Homo sapiens: one gene and its partner. The protein of the gene in region 1 purifies or fractionates together with the protein of each later gene. This does not show direct contact. Each region holds a gene or a part of one and is shown in the gene's direction. Other genes may lie near its edges.

The links. The genes of interacting proteins can lie anywhere in the genome.
Region 2: the proteins of WDR5B (region 1) and RPIA purify together in Homo sapiens (affinity purification with mass spectrometry; 2 studies listed by BioGRID and IntAct, with this or other methods). This does not show direct contact.

What each region holds. Positions count from the first base shown.
Region 1 is NC_000003.12:122,412,932-122,420,960, reverse strand, and holds the start of WDR5B (WD repeat-containing protein 5B), read left to right. Parts: upstream 1-4,898; 5' UTR 4,899-5,432; coding exon 5,433-6,425; 3' UTR 6,426-8,029. UniProt on the Homo sapiens protein: May function as a substrate receptor for CUL4-DDB1 ubiquitin E3 ligase complex.
Region 2 is NC_000002.12:88,694,673-88,701,672, forward strand, and holds part of RPIA (ribose-5-phosphate isomerase), read left to right. Parts: intron 1-3,811; coding exon 3,812-3,872; intron 3,873-5,336; coding exon 5,337-5,392; intron 5,393-7,000. UniProt on the Homo sapiens protein: Catalyzes the reversible conversion of ribose-5-phosphate to ribulose 5-phosphate and participates in the first step of the non-oxidative branch of the pentose phosphate pathway.

The sequences.
Region 1 (8,029 bases):
AATTAGCCAGCCATCGTACCACAAGCTTGCAATCCCAGCTACTCAAGAAGTCGAGGCAGGAGAATCGCTTGAATCCGGGAGGTGGAGGTTGCAGTGAGCCAAGATTGCACCACTGCACTCCAACCTGGCTGACAGAGCAAGACTCCATCTCAAAAAAAAAAAAAAAAAAAAAAAAAAAAATCACTGGGTTTACAAGTTTATTAAAGATAGCTTGAATGATTGTTGCCCCATTTCACTTGCATTTTGAAGGAGTCATTGTTTTCTCTAATTTTAAATTAATATACAGTCATTTCTGTGTTTTTTTGCAGAAAGTAAAATTACTCATTCTTATTCATATCCACTTAACCTGCAGAAGGCCAATGTAGTCCGCTGGGAGTCCTCAATAAGGATCACTGCTTTACCCATCACTTGGGCTGGGCATTATTAAGATACAGTGATGGGTAAGGAGAAAACAGAAACGCAAAAGACCGTAATGGGTGGTGAGAGAACAGTACCAGGTTTGGGAGAGACCTGCGCAGGCTGAGGTGTAAACTACCAGAGTGTGAAATGGTTGCAAGATTAAGTTACGATTATGAGGAGTGTCCTCTTGGGAAGTCAAAAGTAGTGTCTGCTGGGCACAGCCCCAGTTTACATTTGGAGATCAGCTAACACCTGTGAATTATTTTACTGCCCCCTTTCACTTTTAAAAATGTCCCAGTTTAGATAATGTTACGTGGCCACTCCATATTTATAAAGCCCAACTAGATTTTCATACATTGGCTAATGGTCTTAAGCAACTAGGTATACATAGTTCTATTAATGCTTGATATTGAGACTGGATTTGGTAGTCAAGAATTGCTATGAAGGATGTTGAGACATTCCTTAATGTGGGAATCACTCCCATGCCACGGTTTGGTCCAGCACACATACAAAAAAAAAATTGTTTTTAAATTTAAAAATTGCCCCATTTGTGGCAACACATCTGTTTAGATATTTACAATACTGAGGGGCAAGGGAAACACACCTTTAAACTATATTAAGATAAGAGACTTTCATTTCTTTTTTTTTTTTTTTTTTTTTTTTTTTTTTGAGACGGAGTCTCGCTCTGTCGCCCAGGCCGGACTGCGGACTGCAGTGGCGCAATCTCGGCTCACTGCAAGCTCCGCTTCCCGGGTTCACGCCATTCTCCTGCCTCAGCCTCCCGAGTAGCTGGGACTACAGGCGCCCGCCACCGCGCCCGGCTAATTTTTTGTATTTTTAGTAGAGACGGGGTTTCACCTTGTTAGCCAGGATGGTCTCGATCTCTTGACCTCATGATCCACCCGCCTCGGCCTCCCAAAGTGCTGGGATTACAGGCGTGAGCCACCGCGCCCGGCCTTCATTTCTAAGATGTCTGGGAAATTTAAAGAAATCTAGTTGATTTCTGTAGGGAGGAAACTTCCAAAGCACTTAGATGGTAAAGATTAAGGGCAGCAGAAATAGAAACTGTTAATGAGACCATGTAAGAAATTTTGCTTGGTCAACCCGGGCAATGTAGTGAAACTCTGTCTCTACAAAGGGTTGTTGTTGTTTTTTTTTTTTTTGAGATGAAGTCTCGCTCTTGTCCCTCAGGCTAGAGTGTGATGGCACAATCTCGGCTCACTGCAACCTCCGCCTCCTGGGTTCAAGCGATTCTCCTGCCTCAGCCCCCTGAGTAGCTGGGATTACAGGCGCCTGCCACCACGCCCGGCTAATTTTTGTATTTTTAGTTGAGAAGGGGCTTCACCATGTTGGCCAGGCTGGTCTAGAACTCCTGACCTCAGGTGATCCACCCGCCTCGGCCTCGCAAAGTGCTGGGATTACAGGCGTGAGCCATAGTGCCCAGCCAACAAGGTATTTTAAAAAGTAGCCGGGCATGGTGGCGGGTGCCTGTGGGAGGCTGAGGTGGGAGGATCGCCTGAGCCCTGGCAACGCTGCAGTGAACTGAGATGGCACCACTGCACTCCAGCCTGGGCGACAAGGGCAAAACTCCGTCTCATAAATAAATTAATAAGTAAATAAGAAACCCAAAATGCGTATCTCTTATTCTGCCACTTTGGATTTACCTACATGTATCAGTATTCAGCAAAACTCCGTCTCATAAATGAATAAATAAGGAACCCAAAATGCAAATCTCTGTTCTGCCACTTCGGATTTACCTGTATCAGTATTCCGTGCTCCTGCACCGAAATGTCGCTGATCCTCCCAAGCAAGTAAACTGAAAATCTTAGTTCTAATTTCCTAAGGACTACAATGTTAGGACTACATGTTAATATCAGAACATGAATGAATAAACAATAGAACATAACTAGTTATATTCGCCAGGCGCGGTGGCTCACGCTTGTAATCCCAGCACTTTGGGAGGCCGAGGCGGGCGGATCACCTGAGGTCGGGAGTTCAAGACCAGCCTGGCCAACATGGAGAAACCCTGACTCTACTAAAAATACAAAATTAGCCGGGCATGGTGGCGCATGCCTGTAATCCCAGTTACCCGGGAGGCTGAGGCAGGAGAATCGCTTGAACCAGGGAGATGGAGATTGCAGTGAGCTGAGATCGCGCCACTGCACTCCAGCCTGGGCAACAAGAGCGAAACTCTGTCTCAAAAAAAAAAAAAACTAGTTATATTCATAGCCTTGATTTTGTTTGCATATGTTCCTAATGCTATTTGTAAACAAATCCCAGACATCAAGAAATGGATTTTGTTAATAGGAATTTCTTCAGATTTTAGGAAAATCTGAAGAAAAATAACTTCCGGATCTTCCTATCAACACATCCTTTATTGTGTCCCCCCCTCTCTCTTGCTTGTGATAGCTGTGGTGGGCTAAATATATTCCAGCACTAATACCCTATCCTAGCCTTCATGTCAAGTGTTCACGATTCTTAAATTTTACTCTTCTAGTGCATACAACAGTTACTGGAAAATGCAGATTTAAATTATTTGAAACAATGATTAAATTCTGCTCCTGTGCTCCAAGGGGCTTTTACGTTACCTTTTATTGAGTTAATAAAAATGGAAATAGTTTTCAATTGGTGCAGTTTCTAAACTTCTCAGCAAAAATCACTAATCCAGGCTAATGGGAAGAGAAAAGCAGCAGCAGGGTTTAGTTAGAACTGAACTTTAAGATATGCTGAAGGAAAAAAAATTTCTAAAAGTGTTAACAAGGGGAGGTCCATGGAGACCTTAATAGCTAAAAACCGTTGTAATTTAATGTATAGAAATAAATACTCTAAACCATTTTAGAGTCTTCATTCTCAGGACTACCTCACTGTGTTTATACAGTTAATATGCACTAGCTAAGACTAAAGTATTTGTCCAATTCTTATTTAAATTTCCCCCTAGACTGGTAGGGTCTTAAAGTAATGATATTTTAACTACAGTCGGTTTATTACAGGTGACCTAACGGTGCCTGTTGTGCCTTATAAAGGCCAAGACTTTCAATTATCCCTAATAAGTATACAATAGGATACCCATTGTTTCCAAGTGCTTTTAAATTCTTGACGCTGATGAGACATTTGCATCGTGACCAGCCACCAGTAAAATCTTTTAAGCCACGTTTTTTCTGCTTTTCTTGGGCACTCTTTTTTTTTTTTTTTTTGAGACGGAGTCTCACTGTTGCCCAGGCTGGAGTGCACTGGTGGAATCTCAGCTTACTGCACCCTCCACCTCCTGGTTCATGCCATTCTCCCACCTCAGCCTCCTGAGTAGCTGGGACTACAGGCGTGCGCCATCACGCGCAGCTAATTTTTGTATTTTTAGCAGTATTGGTTGCGCCATGTTGGTCAGGCTGGTCTCGGACACCCGACCTAAAGTGTCCCGCCCGACTGGGCCTCCCAAAGTGCTGGGATTACAGGCGTGAGTGCTCGGCCTCGGGCACTCTTTACTGAGCAACAACAGGTTGGAGAAACTAGTAGGGCTTCCAGTTTTTTGGTAAACCTATTGTTTAAAAGTCTGCCTGGTCATCAGATTCCAGTCGTCTTGTTTCTGCCTCAGATGATAAAACTCTAAAATTATAGGATGTGAGATCTGGAAAATGTTTGAAAACACTAAAGGGGCACAGTAATTATGTCTTTCGTTGCAACTTCAATAGCATGTATATTTTACACACTTTCATGACCATTAATCATCTCCTAAAACTGGGGAAAGCTCTCTAAAACCTCCTTAAGAGTAACCTTATCCGTTACCCTATTCCACCAACCTCTTTGTCCTTTTCTGTTTCAAGCAACTTTGAGATACCGACTTCTCTATGGAAGCTTAAGCCGTAGATGCTAAAACAAACGTTTGCTCGTTACTCCCAGCAGAGCACCGGCTTTTAAAGGACCTCAACAGACACGTTTCTTAACCTTTACGAAACTTTTCCAGGGGAAACTTAAACCAGGAATTTTACAATCTGGCATAAATTCTGTCACCCGCCCCGTGACTCCATCGCCACACATGCCACCTGGCTCCACACCACAACAAACAGGAGGGAGCGGAACCCATGCAAAGCAGGAGCTTCCCCCGTTTCCGGCGTCTGGGTGGATCTACGTTAGCTGCCGTTTAGGCAGCTTACGCGTCAGGTGTGGGCCTAAGCCTGCAGCTAAGGTAGGCATCCGCAAATCTAGTCCTTCTCTGTGACAATTTCCAAAAAGAAATGGTTTTTGAAACAACGATCCACTGCTTCCCACACTATCCAGTTAGGTCCGGGACAGACCCTACCCAGCTAATGCACTCACCCAAGAAGGCAGTCGCTTTCGCATTTGAAGGGCGGGGCGAAAAAGACCGGAAATGAACATTGGCGACTTTTTTGCGCAGGCGCAGATGGCCGTCTCCCATTGGTCATCTCGGCTCGGTAGTGGTAGGAGGGACTTCCTTTGCACATGCGCCAGGCTGCTTTTCCGGCTTTGTTGGAGATTGACGCGGCAGTGCACACCTGCTGGTACGAGCAAAAGTAGCCGACAGGCCAGAGTTTCCAGTTTCGGTGGCTTCGTAGGCTTTTAGCTTCTGAAATCCGCTAAAAGCGGCGGTTCATTCATCTTCAAGTACCTAGCCTGACTGGTAGGGCTGCTCAGCATTCCGAAACATTTCGACCTGGGGAGGGGGGCGGCGGTGAAAGAATACTTTCTGTAGAGAGTGCCCCTCGCGTCGCCCCTGCTTTGAAGGCTTTATGTATTAACGGAATGCCGAACATTTGTGTCCTACTTGCTGACAGCGCACAGGATCCTTCTAACAGTATTTCTCAAGTACTTAACAAAAAGATGAAAACTTGAAGTCCAAGCCGTGCTGCTGATTCCGTCTCACAGTTTAAAGACTGTCCAGAAACTTTAAGCTTTCAAAACTGTACATTTTAAAATCCTGTGCGTTTATCTTCATTTTGCTGGGCAGAAAGCCAAAGTACTGGACTGCCTGGTTCAGGGCTGAACGCCTAGTACACCTGCTAACTTGGAGCTTCAGAGCCATGGCAACCAAGGAGTCAAGAGACGCCAAAGCACAGTTGGCCCTCTCCTCATCGGCCAATCAGAGCAAGGAAGTGCCTGAAAACCCAAACTATGCTCTCAAATGTACTCTTGTGGGACACACGGAAGCAGTGTCATCAGTTAAGTTTAGTCCTAATGGAGAATGGCTAGCAAGTTCTTCTGCTGATAGGCTAATCATAATTTGGGGAGCATATGATGGAAAATATGAGAAAACACTCTATGGTCATAATTTGGAAATATCGGATGTTGCCTGGTCATCAGATTCCAGTCGTCTTGTTTCTGCCTCAGATGATAAAACTCTAAAATTATGGGATGTGAGATCTGGAAAATGTTTGAAAACACTGAAGGGGCACAGTAATTATGTCTTTTGTTGTAACTTCAATCCGCCATCCAACCTTATAATCTCGGGATCTTTTGATGAGACTGTAAAAATATGGGAGGTGAAAACAGGAAAGTGTCTCAAGACTTTGTCTGCTCATTCTGACCCAGTTTCTGCTGTTCATTTTAATTGTAGTGGGTCCTTGATAGTGTCAGGTAGCTATGATGGCCTCTGTAGAATCTGGGATGCTGCATCAGGTCAGTGTTTAAAAACGCTCGTTGATGACGATAACCCTCCTGTCTCTTTTGTAAAATTTTCTCCAAATGGTAAATACATTCTCACTGCAACTTTGGACAACACTCTTAAACTATGGGATTATAGCAGAGGCAGGTGCCTGAAAACATACACTGGTCATAAGAATGAGAAATATTGCATATTTGCCAATTTTTCAGTTACTGGTGGAAAGTGGATTGTGTCTGGTTCCGAGGATAACCTGGTTTACATTTGGAACCTTCAGACTAAAGAGATTGTGCAGAAATTACAAGGCCATACAGATGTTGTGATCTCAGCAGCTTGTCATCCTACAGAAAACCTCATCGCATCAGCAGCATTAGAAAATGACAAAACAATTAAACTGTGGATGAGTAACCACTAATCCCTTTGAAAATCAAGTAGTAGAGCCAAGTTGGCCAAAAAACTTGGATATTTAAAAAGACGGTTTCTTTTAATTTTGGCAGTTTGGTATTTTAAAAATTGTCTATTGTTAAATTTTGAGATTCATACACTACATTTACAAAATGAGATAGTTGAAAAAGCACATCTAGAATTCAGCTTCTGACTACCAATCTTTTTTGAGCAACTTTTTGTAATTTTTATGGATTTATGTCACTTTTATTACAGGGATATATTGCATAGTGGTGAAATCTGGGCTTAGTATACCCTCACCCAAATAGTATACATTGTACCTAGTAAATACTTTCCCATCTCTCACCCCACTCCCACCTTTGAAGGCTCTAGTGTCTATGATTCTGCTCTCCACGTCCAGGTGTACACATTGTTTATCTCCCACTTACGAGAACATGTGGTTTTTGACTTTCTGTATCATTACTTCACTTAATGGCCTCCAGGTCCATCCATGTTGTTGCAAAAGATAAGATTTCATTATTTTTTTTTGGCTGAGTAGTATTCTGTGGTGTGTATGTGTGTGTGTGTATGCATATATGTGTATGTGTATGTATATAAGTATATACACCACATTATCCAGTCATCTGGATATGTATATAAGTATATACACCACATTTTCTTTATCCAGTCATCTCTTGATGGACCCTTAGGTTGGTTCCATAACTTTGCTATTACGAATAGTGCTGCGATAAACAGCACTATTATGAATAGTGCTGCGATAAACAGTGCAGGTGATTTTAAAATATAATTTCCTTTGGGTAGATACCTACTAGTGGGATTGCTGGATCGAATGGTAGTTTTTAGTTGGAAAATCTCCATACTGTTTTCCAGAGGTTGTAAAATGTACATTCCTCCCCACAGTGTATAAGCTGTGCCTTTACTCTGCATCTTTGCCATGATTCTTTTTGAGACAGAGTCTCTGGTGCCCAGGCTGGAGTGCAGTGGCACAATCTTGGCTCACTGCAACCTCTGCCTCCCGGGTTCAAGCAGTTCTCATGTCTCAACATCCCAGGTAGCTAGGATTACAGGCGTGCCACCATGCCTGGCTAATGTTTCTATTTTTAGTAGAGACAGGGTTTCACCATGTTCGAGGCTGGTCTTGAACTCCTGGCCTCAAGTGATCCACCTGCCTCGGCCTCCCAAAGTGCTGGGATTACAGGCATGAGCCACTGTACCCAGCCATTTTTTGACTTTTTAATAATAGCCATTCTAACTGGTTTAAGAGAGTATCTCATTGTGGTTATATTTTGTATTCCTCTGATGATTAGTGATGTTGAGCATTTTTTTGTGTGTGTTTGTTGGCCACTTGTATGTCTTCTTTGAAAACTGACTTCTAATCTTGAGGCCTATTAATAATTTCATTTGTCTGTCACTGGACAATTTCTCATTCCTCTCAGTGACTATCCTAGAGGATCAGTGTATTTGAGAAATATTTAGAAGTAAAGTTGACAGGACAGGATGATTGATTAAAAGAGGGGAGCAAGGGAATTTGAAATAATTCCAGGGTTTCTGGTTTGGGAGATCAGATGAACAAGTGCATAAGCCTGGGATGCTGGTGGAGGACTGGAGAGACAT
Region 2 (7,000 bases), on another chromosome or scaffold:
TCCCTCCTTCCACTTGCTCCTTTCTCTCCCCAATGCTTTTCTGTCTTGGAGCTGGCTGTAAAGAAATTCTGTGACCTATGTTGTCTGTTTGTACGTCATAAGATCCCCATTTCAGAAGGGTTCCTGTTCCATACCCTGGAGGAAGGAATGCTGCAGGTGAAGAAGAATCTGAACAGACAGCCGTTGCAGGGTTTCCCCAGTCAGTCTGCTAGTATTGGATCATGCCCTTTTTGTTCAGTCACATTTCTAGGCCCTTGCAATTCCTGGTCTTTTCCAAGAGCCAATCATACCTATTCAATAAAGTCTCAAAAAAAAAAAAAAAAGAAAAAGAAAAAGAAAAGCTCGAGAGGACAGGGTTTGGAAGCTTCTGGAGAGCAGAACATGTGAAGGTCCCTGGAGGATGGTGTGCCTAGAGAGAGCATGGAAGCTCTGTGCTCCTTCTTACATGCCTTTACCTATGCATCTCTTCATCCATATCCTTCATCATAGCCTTTATAAGCTGGTAAACATGTTTTCCCTGAGTTCTGTGAGCCACTCTAGCAAGTTAATCAAACCCAAAGAGAGTGTTGTGGAAACTCCAACTTGAAGCTGTCAAGTCAGAAGTTCTGGAGGCCTGGACTTGCATTTGGTAGGAAGGAGGAGGCAATCTTGGGAGCTGAGCCCTCAACCAGTGGAACCTTATGGTATCTCCAGGTAGAGAGTGTTGAAATTGAATTGGAGGATACCCAGCTGGTGTCTGCTGCAGAGTAGATTGCTTGCTTGGGATACGGGGAGAAATCCCCATACATTTGATCACAGAAGTCTTCTGTGTTGATGATTGTTGTGGTGTGAGAGCAGAGGAAAAAGTTTGAGTTTTTCCACACTCAGACATAGGCCTTGATAAGACATTTTCTCATTCCTTGAAGATTTTTATATGTGAGATATTTAGCCATTTTGAATGTTTCTGTACTGTGATGTATCATTTACTTGTCTTGAAGTCCTTGCCTTTGGGGATTGTCCAGGTAGCTAAACAACTTTACTACACACATTGCCTTCTTGAGAGCATTGGTATAGGTGGAATCCTGACCTAGTGCGAGCCCTGTTCTGACAGCCCAAGCCCCTGATGTATTCAGTGCCTTTGGAACTGTGAGCTAGTAAAAGCAGTTTCCACCAGGTCAATAACACAAAAGTTGTTGGATAAAGTCTTCTGTAGGTAGGAGAGGCTATAGTAGCATTTTTAGTATATATGTATATGGTTGTGGGGACATTAGTATTTGATTTTTTTTTTTTTGGTAACTCTACTTGTTGGTCATTCTTTCTAATCTTTTCTAGTTATAGATGTAGTCAGGCTTTGAGAAGGACCATATCTAATGTGAGGCCTAGGGGCTGACTTTAAGTATTCCTATGGCCTTTGTCCTGTGGGGAATGAAGGATTTTAGTTGTGGCCCTGCTTGTCCTGAGGGCCCTTCAGGACTTGTCTTCTTCCTAAAAAGAAGGTTTTACTATGGGCTTTCCTTTGTCAAATAAATTAATTGTTAATCAGTTGTTGGAAATCTTAAGAAATTTGAAATAGATTGATGTTTCAGCGAATTGAACTTCCTGAAGTTGCTTATTCGATTGAAATGGCTCATCCTGTAATCCCAGCACTTTGGGAGGCAGAGGTGAGATGATCACTTGAGGCCAGGAGTTCGAGACTAGCCTGGTTGGCAGAGTGAGACTGTGTCTTTTAAAAGAATTAAAAAAATTAGCTGGGCATGGTGGCATGTTCCCATAGTACTAGCTATGTGGGAAGCTGAGGCAGTAGGATTGTATGAGCCCAGGAGTTTGAAGATGAGTTTGTGTGTGTGTGGGGGGGCATTGATAGTTTATATATATTATAAACATATATACAAGATATATTGTATATCTTGTATATATATTTAAAACAGGTAAAATCACACATATATAAAACAAATATATGTCAAAGATTTTATTTAACTCACTAAATTAATGAGGGAACTGGAAAGGTTATTAGAACCTGTTCATAGGTGTCTTAGTCCATTTTGTGCTGCTATAATAGAATACCTGAGAATGAGTAATTTATAATGAACAGAAATGTTTTGGCTTATACTTCTGGAGGCTACGAAGTCCAATATCAAGGCGTTGGCATCTGGTGAGAGAGACAGATGTTGAAGTGCTATGGGTGGGCACCAATCCTACCCATGAGGGTGGAGCCCTCTGACCTAATCACCTCTTAAAGGTCCCACTTCTTAATATTGTTATAATGGCAATTAAATTTCAACGTGAGTTTTGGTGGAGATGTTCAAAGCATAACAGGAGAAGTCAACTGTAAGCTCATATGTAGTAAAAAAATCTTAAAATGAATTTAGAAGATCTGTTAATAATTGTGTCTCACAGAACACTATTAATTTGCATTTCAATGAACAAAACTTACTTGCTTTGTTAACAGTTTTCTGCAAGTTAAAGTGTATCTCTATACAGTCGTCATATATCTTAAAGACAAAGGCACATACCTTCTTAGAGTCAGACAATACAAGCAGGTTCCAGCATCCCATTGGAAGGATATCCAGTAGTCTCTTTTGCTCATTTCAAAGTCTTAAGTTTTTCCTTACAATATTGAACTCATCTATAAAGTGGAAATAGTGGCTCTGTAGGTCATAAGTGATTGTTGTGAGATTTGGCTTTATATTAACATTTATAAGTCTTCTTGGTAGGTGCTTAATAAATGGTAGCTGCCGCTTTGGTGTTCACTTGGCTTTGCCTTGCAAAGGCAGGAGATAGATGTCAGGAAGTTGCTTAGGCACTGAGCTGCATATTAGTTCCTGACTGTTAGTACCCTGGCCTCGTTTTGCTCTTTGTGGTCTAGTAGACTCAGCTGAGCTTTTACTCTTTGGTCTGCTTGCAGGTACCTTCTTTGTTTCTTCTTGTTTGGTCTGCTTGTAGGTACCTTCTTTGTTTCTTCTTGTTTGGTCTGCTTGTAGGTAGGCTCCGTATTGTGATGTCTGCCTGTACTTTGTACTCAGGAAGTGCTCTGCATTTATTATGATCCTTTCTATTGCAGATGAAGACTATTTTTCATGTTCTTAACTAAGCCTTTGCCCTCTTTCCATTTTCTCTGAGGCAGGCTCATGCAAAATGAGCACCCCTTGGTGTCACCTAGGCAGATGCTGACATACTTTATTATTTTGAGGTTACTTCAGGCCCTCCCTTTATCTGCTGACTTTGGGAGAGCTCTAGATGGTGGGCCTGATGTGTCTTGTGGTGCTACCAACTTGAAGGTGCCTATGGAAGACACTGAAGCCAGAAGCCTTAGCTTTCCTCCCTTACCCAGGCTCCAGGCTCTATTGTTTTTTCTTAGGTGTTTTTCTAATTGCCTCCCTGGGATTGGCCAGGAATCTTTTTCTTTTCTTTCTTCTTCTTCTTTCTTTCTTTCTTTTTTTTTTTTTTTTAAACACACTGTTGCTGGCTTGAAATGTCAGGAATCTTTAAGTGTTTATATGCAGGCCATTTCTGTGAGGGTGACGCAAGTTGCTATTCAGTTGCAAGTAATTGCACCAATTATTTGGTAGAATGTAGGGAGGAAGCGGTGGTGTTGACAGTGTCAGAAATGAAGAGAGGAGGGCCTTGTTGAACATTTGTCCACCATGGATTGGCTAAAGTACAGCATTGAGGTTCATTGTTTATGTTCCTATAAAATAGGCACAGTACCTGTCTTGTACCTGTGTTGGTGGATTGCTGTTCATAATAATTTTATAGCTTTAGGAAGTAGGCTGACAAAGGAGTAAAATATGATATTAATAAGTTTTGTTTTTTCTTCCCCGTTTTTTGGCAGAATAACCAAGTGCTGGGAATTGGAAGTGGTTCTACAATTGTCCATGCTGTGCAGCGAATAGGTATGCTCTCTCACTGTCTACTGGATGTTTTGTGTGTGATGATGGGGTAGGGAGGTAGAGGAGAGGGAGGAAGTGGCACACAGGTTTGGCATTGCCCTTTTGGCTTCAGCAGTACAGAGCTGGAGAGAGGGACTACCTGAGGTCAGTTGAGTGTTTCTGCTCTTTTGTGGAGAGAGGGAATCTTGGGCCTCTTCATCCAACTTTGAAGGACGCCCTTGCCTTTGTTTACTCTGCTCAGCTGGAGGGGAGGAGCTGACTTAGCTTGAGGTCCCAATATAATTTTAATCATGTTGATGGCATTCTACCATTGAGTTCTTTGCGTGAGCTCAGACTTCCTCAGGCAGATAATTGAGGCCATAGTGGGTTTGCCCTGTCCATGACCCTGGAGTGGATGTGGGACTCCTGCCATTGATGGCTGGTTCCTGCAGGTGCTCATTTCACACTGATTAGGGTGTCTCTATGCTTAGGAAAGACTCAGGAATTATCAGCCCCTATGGCTGCTCAACAGGTTTTACTTCCCTGCTCTTTGTTTGTAAGAACAAAGCCCAGAGGAGAGGCCTGCCTGAATGCTGAATTCTTCTAGGTGCCAAGGGGCAGAGCCCAGGAGGTAAAGTCCAGGAACACTTTGTTATCAAGGAGTGGTTTTAGTGCTGGTGTGATGGCTTCTGGAAGCCTTCTCACTGGCCAAATAGGAGCTTTTGTGTTATATACCTTTCAATCTTAACCAAGTATCTGGAGAATACTTTCAGGGCACAGGAGTTACTATGGATTTTATAATAGTGGCACCCAAACCTCCCAAGATGCACTCAGTGATTAAAAAGACTTGAAATTTTAATACGAATTTTTTCCTGAAGTCTTTTTTTTTTTTTTAAATCAAACTTTCCTGAAAGGTACAAATCCAAATTGAAAAAATAAATCTCCTTTAGCTACTCTCTGGGGCCTACAAATAAGTATGTTTTTTACTAAAATGCAAAAGTAAAGTTCTGGCTTTTTCCTAGAAGAGGCAATATAGGGGAGTTAAGACTGTGTGGCTACATGGCCTGGGATCATGTCCCAGCTGTGTCCCTTATTAGCAGTATAACTACCGAGTTACATTACCTCTCTGAACCTCAGTTGCCTTATCTGCAAAATGCGGAAAATAATTTAACTTACCTTTTGGGTTGTTAGGATTAAGAGTTCATATATACAAAGTTCTTAGAATATTGTCAGGCACATAACAATGGCAAACACTGACACTGCTTTCTGTGGTCAGTACTTACCTCTCCAGGCTTTCTTGTGTCCCTATCTTCTGATGTGTGAGGTACAGTCACCAACTTTCCCACCAAGGAGGGGGACACAGGATGAAAGGCAGCTGTCTTTGGGAAATAGACCTTCCCTTGTCTGTTGGTTTCGAGCAAACACATATGACAAGAAGAATAAAGTAAGGAGAGTGAAAAACTGCCAATATGGCTTTTGTTTCCACAGCTGAAAGGGTGAAGCAAGAGAATCTGAACCTCGTCTGTATTCCCACTTCCTTCCAGGTATGTCCTGCTTTCCATCTGCATCGTGACAGCTTCTGCTGTATCTTCTGGTTCCCCGGGGTTGTGGACCTATGGCCTTGTCTTGTACCTCAAGGTTGTTCTAGGTCAGAGAGTCCAGGAATAGGAGAGTTTATTGACCAAGGATTCCTTCTTGGAATTGTAGTTTTAGGTGCATTTGTTTAATCACTTGGTGAATATTTCAGTGCATGTTGAGTTTAGGCACTACGGAGAATGCAGAGATGGCCCGGTAGTCTCTCTCCTCAAGGAATATTACTCCTATTTATAGGTGAAAAAAATCAGGCTAGGCCAGGTGTGGTGGCTCATGCCTGTAATCTCAAGTACTTTGGGAGGCCAAGGTAGGCAGATCACTTGAGCACAGGAGTTCAAGACCAGCCTGGGCATTATGGTGAAAGCCTGCCTCTACAAAAAATACAAAAATTAGCTGGGTGTGGTGGCTTGTACCTGTAGTTCCAACTATGTAGGAGGCTGAGGCGGGAGGATCTCCCTTGAGCCCAGGAGGTCCAAGCTGCAGTGAGCTGTGATTGTGCCAGTGCACTCCAGCCTGGGCAACAGAGTGAGACCCTGTCTCAAGAAAAAAAAAATCAGGCTAAAAGGAATTAAGCAATGTGTTGGTAATGCAAGTACATCATAAAATAGTAGGAGCTGATGGAGGAAAGCAGTGGAGCCAGTTAAATATAGGGAGAGATAAGGGAAGAGAGGTTTTGGGAAGTGGAAGGGAAGACAGTTGCTCAGATGGAGCCAATTGTCATCCCTCATCTGGCCATTGCAGGGAGGAGTATGTGTATAATCTCTCGCTGGATTAGTCAAGATGATACTATGCACTGGGGTAGGAGATGAGATTTATGAGTGACTGATGCTCCTGGGACTTTATGGACTTAGGCTTGGATAGCTGGGTTTCTTAGGAAACCCTCCCAATCCTGGAGACACAGGATGCTGGCAGCCTGCAACCAGCTCTGGTGAAGGGAGAGAGGTTAAGGTTCCTTCTAAACCAGACTGGCCTCAGCTTAACAGTAGGGTGTAAGGCAGAGATTCCAGGTAGACAGGTTAGGGAGTTGGATAGTGCATACTGTTGGAGCTTCCTTGATGTTAAATCTCTTGGAGACCTTAAACAAGGTGGATGGCCACCCAGGGGACTGAAGGCAATATCTTAAGTGTTTTATATAGCTTTTTTTTTTTTTTTTTAAATCCTGCTTTCTTGAGGCAATGCTTTTAAAGCCTCAGTGGCTTGTGATGGATTTTCTTAGTCTTTTGAAAAGCTAAGTATCTAATTTTTCCAACTGGCTTGATCATCAAGTATTTTTATTTCTTAGTTAATAAATTACATTGGTGTTTATTTTTAAAGTTATATATGCACGTGGATTGAAGAAACAAATAATTCAAGTCTTTTTATTTAAAAGAAAAAAAAGCACACTACCCTCACTTTCCCCTAGATGACCACTACCTAGAAAGCACACTCTTATTACCTCCCACCCCTGACCTCCACTATTTCTTGCTCTTTACATGGACATACTTTTAGCTCTTTTAGGTGATTGGATATTCTAACAGCCACTATAGATTTAAGTCAAAGTTAATTTTATTCTGAGCCAA